Linked DNA regions of Homo sapiens. The protein of the gene in region 1 interacts with the protein of each later gene in a biochemical or structural test. Each region holds a gene or a part of one and is shown on either strand. Other genes may lie near its edges.

The links.
Region 2: the proteins of ELOA (region 1) and REXO1 form a complex in vitro, tested with the Homo sapiens proteins (one study listed by BioGRID).

What each region holds. Positions count from the first base shown.
Region 1 is NC_000001.11:23,753,359-23,757,164, forward strand, and holds part of ELOA (elongin-A), read left to right. Parts: intron 1-741; coding exon 742-897; intron 898-1,004; coding exon 1,005-1,102; intron 1,103-2,484; coding exon 2,485-2,665; intron 2,666-2,915; coding exon 2,916-3,027; intron 3,028-3,594; coding exon 3,595-3,767; intron 3,768-3,806. UniProt on the Homo sapiens protein: SIII, also known as elongin, is a general transcription elongation factor that increases the RNA polymerase II transcription elongation past template-encoded arresting sites.
Region 2 is NC_000019.10:1,817,443-1,821,248, forward strand, and holds part of REXO1 (RNA exonuclease 1 homolog), read right to left. Parts: intron 2,954-3,806; coding exon 2,822-2,953; intron 2,739-2,821; coding exon of another isoform or gene 2,727-2,738; exon of another isoform or gene 2,616-2,726; coding exon 2,492-2,615; intron 1,690-2,491; coding exon 1,576-1,689; intron 1,402-1,575; coding exon 1,264-1,401; coding exon of another isoform or gene 1,237-1,263; intron 1,154-1,236; coding exon 1,040-1,153; intron 339-1,039; coding exon 265-338; intron 17-264; coding exon of another isoform or gene 2-16; exon of another isoform or gene 1-1. UniProt on the Homo sapiens protein: Seems to have no detectable effect on transcription elongation in vitro.

The DNA.
Region 1 (3,806 bases):
TTAATGAATTCAGAAGTGATGCCTTTTTGCTCTGGGTTTATCACATAGTAATTGTTCAGTAAATTGCTGCTGCTGTTATTAGCAGCCCTTTATCCTATGTGTTACATAGGATTTTTGTCTGAAAGAAAAAAATGTCTAATTTTCATAGCAAAAGAAGTAGAAGCCACATAAGGGTCTATCAGCAGGAGACTAACAGATAAATCATGGTTCATCTACACAGTGGCATCCTATGCCACAGTAAAAAAAAAATGTGGAAAGTCTATGCACTGACATGGAATGATCTCTCAGATGTGGCAAATGAAAAAAAGCAATGTATGTAGTGAGTATGTTATTAATTGATTCATTGGCTTAAAAGGAATAAGATACATTTGCTTTTTTTTGTTGTTGCTGTTGAGAGTCTTGCTGTGTTACTCAGGCTGGAGTGCAGTAGCTCCATCTTGGCTCACTGCAGCCTCCACCTCCTAGGTTCAAGCAATTCCTCTGCCTCAGCCTCCTGAGTAGCTGGGACTACAGGTGCATGTTGGGCAGGCTGATCTCGAACTCTTGACCTCAGATGATTCATGTGCCTTGGCCTCCTAAAGTGCTGGGATTACAGGAGCTTATTTTTAAATTCTCTGGAAGGATCTACAAAAATCTGTAGCGTGGATTGCCATTGGGAAAGGGAAGTAGGAGGCTGAAGGGGGTAGAAGGAGAGTTTTCACTGGATCACTTAGGGCCTTTTGTGTTTTTCTTGCCCTATAGCGTTCTCTTCACCCCAGGAAGAAGAAGAAGCTGGATTTACTGGGCGCAGAATGAATTCCAAGATGCAGGTGTATTCTGGTTCCAAGTGTGCCTATCTCCCTAAAATGATGACCTTGCACCAGCAATGCATCCGAGTACTTAAAAACAACATCGATTGTAAGTCACACGCTTCTCTCTAGCTCTCAAGCACATTGTAGCACTTGGACCTTATCACTGGGTGGCTTGGCTGCTACTCAGTGTCTTCACCTTTGGTTTCTCTGCAGCAATCTTTGAAGTGGGAGGAGTCCCATACTCTGTTCTTGAACCCGTTTTGGAGAGGTGTACACCTGATCAGCTGTATCGCATAGAGGAATACAATCATGTGAGTATTCTGTTTGGGTGGGAAGAGGGCAGTTTTCTGGCTTGTACCTCCAGAAATAGCTTTGTCCCTGTGACTCCGCTGTGGCTGAAGGGCAGATCAGTGGTCAGAGCATTGTTCTGGATATATTTGGTTTGCCACTGGGCCTTTAAACAAGCATGTTATTAGCACTTGCTCCTGGCACCTTAAGTGGGCCTCTTGGGCTAGGATCAGGGTGGGATTCAAAGGGAGAAGAAAAACACTTAACATCTCCCTTGAGCTTGCCTAGTCATGAAGGTAAAGGGAGAATTCTGGCAGCAGAGTAGCTGGGACCCAGGGCGGGGAAAGCACTTTGTGTTGACACTCTGACATCTGGTGATTGGCTGGATGTCTCTTAAGAAACATCAAGATTTATCCAGAATCCTCCTTAGGATGTAGGGTATACACATTTGATTGCATCAGCTGTCTCTCTTTAATTCTGAAAGTTCTATGACCTAACACCTTTTTTTTTTTTTTTGGAGATAGGGTCTACCTCTGTTGCTTCGACTGCAGTACAGAGGCCTAATCATGGCTTACTGCATCCTTGAACTCCTGGGCTTAAGTGATCCTCCCAAGTAGCTGGGACTACAGGCACATACCACCACAGCTGGCTAATATTTTTATTTTTTAGAGAGATGGACTCTCAGACTCTTGGCCTCCTGAAGTGCTGGGATTACAGGCATGAGCCAACGCGCCTGGCCAATAACTTAACATCCTTCTTAGGTTGCCCCTTTGCCATCACAGTTCAGCGTAGTGTTGGGAAGTACCTGATTTGACTTGATCGCAGTTCTACCCTTTGCTGATTTTCTAAAGGAAAAGACTGATGTTACACAGATTTTTGTGATATTCTGTCACAGCCACCAAAAGCAACTAGCATAGTGCCTCACACTTCGCATTTTTAAAATTTAGGGAGTTATTTTTTTCCTAGAATTGTGGTATTTTAACATACTACTAAGATGAAGACCAAAAAATTTTTGGGAAACTGGTCACTCCTAGGTAATTAAATAATCAGAAAAAGATATGAGGCTGGGCATGGTGACACACGCCTGTAATCCCAGCACTCTGGGAGGCCAAGGTGGGCGGATTATCTGAGGTCAGGAGTTCGAGACCAGCCTGGACAACATGGCAAAACCCCATCTCTACTGAAAATATAAAATAGCTGGGCGTGGTGGTAAGCACCTGTAGTCCTGGCTACTTGAGAGGCTGAGGCGTGAGAATCGCTTGAACCCAGGAGGCAAGGGTTGCAGTGAACCAAAATTGCACCACTGCACTGCAGTCTACACGACAGAGCAAGACTCTGTCTCAAAAAAAAAAAAAAAATATGGAAAAGTGCTTGTACACAAATGATGTCCTGGTTCTGGTTTCAGGTATTAATTGAAGAAACAGATCAATTATGGAAAGTTCATTGTCACCGAGACTTTAAGGAAGAAAGACCCGAAGAGTATGAGTCGTGGCGAGAGATGTACCTGCGGCTTCAGGACGCCCGAGAGCAGCGGCTACGAGTACTAACAAAGAATATCCAGTTCGCACATGCCAATAAGCCCAAAGGTAACAGAGACGGGAGAGCTGGGGGAGAACTGGCAGGATGAGTGTTCTGGTCAATAGCAGGGTGTTGGTGGGCTTGGCTGGTGTAGGACTGCTTGCCCCTACATCAGGTAGCAGGGTGGGTATTTCTTCTGCCACCGCCCATTCTACCCTACAAGTGGGGTTTCAGGGCACTCAAAAAGCCCGTGGATTATTTAAATAACAGTAGCATCTCTGCTCAAGAAGGCAGATGTTCATCTCCATAATTCCACAGGCCGACAAGCAAAGATGGCCTTTGTCAACTCTGTGGCCAAGCCACCTCGTGACGTCCGGAGGAGGCAGGAAAAGTTTGGAACGGGAGGAGCAGCTGTCCCTGAGAAAATCAAGTAAGATCTGTGTTCTTACCTGGCTTTTGTGTGCTATCAACCCTTAGAGGTAGCCATAGCGGCAGGAAGCAAATTGCTTTTGGTGAAAGTGAGGCAGTGCAGACTGTGGGCTCTGGAGGCAGACCTCATCAGCTCAGCACTTCCCTCACCTCCCTCAGCCTCCGCTTCTTGGACTGCAGTGCAAGGTGATAATTACCCCTGCCCTAGGGTAGTCAAGATTAAATGGAGAGCAAAGCCTGGCTTATGGGAAACATTCCCTTATGCTTTCCCTTTTCCCATCTAAACAAAAAACACATTTCTGCAATGATTGTTATTTTGTCTAAGCCACATTAGCCTTTTCAAAATACAGATTTATACCAAAACAGTGAAAAGTTAGTTGAGATTATCATTTTTTCTGAAAGGATAATGGAGACATCTCTGAGCCACCACCAGAATCCAGGGTGATAGGGTCCATTGGTCAAAGCCACAAACAGGGTGAGTCATCCTCACACAGGCCAGCTTCAGGCTGTTCATGCTCAGGGCAGATTTCTTGTGCTCATGCCTAACCAGTGTTGTCCTGTGTTGCAGGATCAAGCCAGCCCCGTACCCCATGGGAAGCAGCCATGCTTCCGCCAGTAGCATCAGCTTTAACCCCAGCCCTGAGGAGCCGGCCTATGATGGCCCAAGCACCAGCAGTGCCCACTTGGCACCAGTGGTCAGCAGCACTGTTTCCTATGATCCTAGGAAACCCACTGTGAAGAGTAAGTAACTTGGAGTTCCTGCTCAAATATTATTTCAGC
Region 2 (3,806 bases), on another chromosome or scaffold:
TTCACTGGTTGGGACCCTGGTGAGCAGGTGGGGAAGGGGGCTTGCCAAGAAGACACAGGGAGGACGGCTTCCCAGGATGGGAAGTGGCCAGGGACAGGGCCTGGGGCCTACGGGTGCTACGTTCTCTGGGTAACACAAGAAAGGCTGCCCGGGGGCCCAGACCCTGAGCCCAGGACTGTGCTGTGTCCCGAGACCCCACACCAACGATGGGGAGGCAGAAGTCTGTTGAGAACAGGCAGAGGGGACTGGGACGCCAGGGCTCACCTTTGCGACTTGGCAGCCGACAGAGCCGGCGGCAGCCGAGCAGCACATGTACTGGGTCTCCCAGCCTCCGGCCACTGCAGGGGACACAGACACACAGTCAGGGCCCGGCCAGGCCCACTCCACAGCCCCCGGGGCACTGACCACCTGCATCTACCGAGCCCTACTAGGGAGTGAGGACTGAGGACAGGAGGCCTCAGCCTCTTGGTGGAGCTGGAAGCAGACCAGGCCCCGGCAGTCGTGTGGCAGCCAGGACGCCCAGGCCTGGATCCAGGGAGACCAGTGCCCTCTGCAGAGGCCTCTTGGCAGCGCTGCCCCGGGCAGCACCCTCCAGGTATCCCTGAGGCGATGGCTTTAGGGGCCGCCACAGGGCTGTGCAAGGCTGGCCATGTGCCCTGAGCGTGGCTGCGTGGTTGCCTGGGGGATTGAATAGAACCACCAGGCCAAGGGTGGGACAAGCCCCTCCGCTCCTGGGGCCAGCAACCTCCACATTTCCATGGACCAAGGGCACAGGAAGGCAGGGACACAGGGCCTTTCAGGTGGTGGCATTTGAACCTTGTCATGGGAAAGCTCTTGTCTTACTTTTGCATAAAGAACAGGTGGAGAGAAAATGAGGCCAAGGGCTAGCCCCGGCTCTGCCAAAGACGGTGCAGCCCAGGGACCCTGAGTGGGATGGAGGGCCTGGGTAAAGCCTTACCCCAGTTCTGGGGGCCTCAAGGGAGGGCCCAGGTTCCGGGGGCCATGGGTGGGAAGGGGAAGGACCCGGGTAAGGCCTTACCCCGGTTCCGGCGCAGCCGTCCCCAGTGGTAATAACACTCCTCGTCCCGGATGCAGCGGCCTGAAGAGGACACGAGGTACTCGGTGCCACAGCGGCAGCAGGTCCTGCAGGAAGCTGTGGGTGGGGACCCAGGTGGAAGCTGAGGCTCACGCTGGGGCCCGCATGCCCGGCCTTGCCCACATCCCGCACCTGCCCACCTAGGCCGTCGCAGGCCAGCGACTCACAGTCCTTGGGCCTCTTCTCCTCAGCTGTGAAGATGATTGCGCCCCCGGGCCGCTCTGGGTGCGGGAAGGGGTAGCCGTTCTCCTTGAGCTGGTCCTGGGTGAGCAGGTACTCCCTGAGGCGGCTGTACAGGGCAGCCCCTGTGGACAGGCACAGTGGTCAGCCCCTGCCTGGGATGGCCCACGGGGCGGTAGACACCACCGGGAAAGGCGGCTGGGCCGGCAGGGGCCCACGAAGCACCGTGTGGCACAGCAGGGGCTGGGCCGGCAGAGGCCCACGAAGCACCGTGTGGCAGAGCAGGGGCAGGGCCTTACCTTTCAGGTCCTCCACCCGGGGGCTGCTTGGACGGCTGAGCGAGAAGCTGGTCTTGGCGGCCAACCTGCCCCCCAACACCACCTCGTGGGACACAACCCTGCGGCCACTGGTTTCTGGAAGGAAGGGAGGGAGGGGAGGAGGGTGTGAAGTAGCTGGCTCAGACCCCTGCCCCGCCTGCTCTCCCACCCACCCTGCCCTCCTCAGACCTCTGCCTCAACTCCCCCTTTCTGGGACAGCACCCCACTGACCCCGGGTTCCAGCCTGACCCGAACAGGAGAGGCAGACATGCGGTGAGCCAGGGACGCAGGGCAGCCGCCAGCTCTGCAGGCCCCAGAGCTGCACGGAGGCCCCACACCCAAAGTCTTCGTCCCCTCCCCTCAAGCGAAGGGGGAAGGGCGGGGAGAACAGCACGGGGGATCTAATGGCTTTCGAGGGCTTTGAGCCTTCATGGGCCACCCAGCCTGCGACGCCAACCCAGGGCCCCTCCGAGTGCTAATGCAGGCGGGGACGGGGGCAGGGGCCGGTGATAGCTTAATGCAGCCTGGAGAGGCTGCAATGAAACGCCCAGGTCTCCGCTTTCTTCCTCCCCAGAGCTTAATGCATGGAGCTCGCCCAGCCCTGGGCCTCCTGCTTTGAAGAAGCTGCCGCAGCTCCATTAGCAGGCGGCCCCTCGGCTCGGCTTGGAGACCCCACTCAGCGGAGGAAGGCGGCTGACAGCGAGGACACCAGGGCCAGGTCCGTCCTACACAGAAGCCTGGGAACCAGGCAGCAGGCAGCCCCCCCACAGCACCGCGCTTTCCTTTTGTCTGAGACTGTGGCTGAGCTCAGGGCTGTGAAGGTCCCAGCGAGGGTCCCAGCCCAGCTGCCACCCCAAGAGCAACCCTGAGCCTCCCCCGCCCACCCGCCAGGACTCACTGCTGAGGCCGGGCACAGCGCTGGGGGCCAGGCCCCTGAGCTTCTTGAGGGTGTTCACGGCCACATTCAGGTAGATGTTCTTGCTGGGGCTGCGGTCATAGGCCACCTTCTCCTCGTTCAGTGCCTGGGGGACAGGCGGTGCCCAGCTGAGGCCATGCCTGCCTGGTGCCGGGGAGCCCCAGCGGTGGGGTCGCCATGGGGTCGGGGACTTGCATCTCTCCCAGGCAGCTCCGGGTCACAGCTGCGGCTGAGAGGCCGGGGGATGTCTGGGGACCACCCTGGACCCCTAGTCCCCACCCGACCGGCCAGATAGGAACTCCAGGACCTCACCTTCTCTATGGCCTCCTGGTTGGAGGTACAGAACTTGAGACACTCCTCGATGAACAGGTTGAGATAGCGCTGGCGGATGACGGTGGGGACTTTGCCCCCAAACTCTTTGGGGATAATGGGTTTCTTTAAACTCTAGAGGGAAGGCAAAAGCTGCCATGGGTGAGGGCCTCCACAAGGCCTCCAGCGGGGAACGCAGACGCGATGAGGCCGTGCCCATGGCTGGAGGCAAGAGTGAGGTGCGCTGGGACAGATCAGCCTGGCTGCAGTAGGGACAGACACGCCAAGGCAAGACAGGAGCAGCAGGGGAAACTGAGGGCAGCGGAACTAAGGTCATGGGAAACTGAGGCCATGGGGGCACAAGGGAACTTGCTGTACTTTCTGCTCAATTTTCCTAGAAACCTAAAGTTGCTCAAAAAACATAAAGTCTATTAATTAAAAACAAAACAAGGCCAAGCGTGGTGGCTCACGCCTATAATCCCAGCACTTTGGGAGGCTGAGGCAGGAGGATCACTTGAGGACAAGAGTTCAAGATCAGCCTGGACAACGTGGCAAAACCCTGTCTCTACAAAATAAAAAACAAAATTATTAGCTGGGGTGTGATGACACCGGCTTGTGGTCCCAGCTACTCAGGAGGCTGAGGTGGAAGGATCACTTGAGCCCAGGAGGTCGAGGTTGCAGTGAGCCATGATTGCGCCCCTGCACTCTAGCCTGGGCAACAGAGACCCTGTCTCTAAACAAAAAAAAAAAACACCAACCAACCAAAAAAACAAAACAAGACAAAACAAAAAAACACCGCCAGGGCGGTCGGGCATGGTGGCTCACGCCTGTAATCCCAGCACTTTGGGAGGCCGAGGCGGGTGGATCACGAGGTCAGAAGATCGAGACCATCCTGGCTAACATGGTGAAACCCCGTTTCTACTAAAAATACAAAAACAGCCAGGCGTGGTGGCGGGCGCCTGTAGTCCCAGCTACTCAGGAGGCTGAG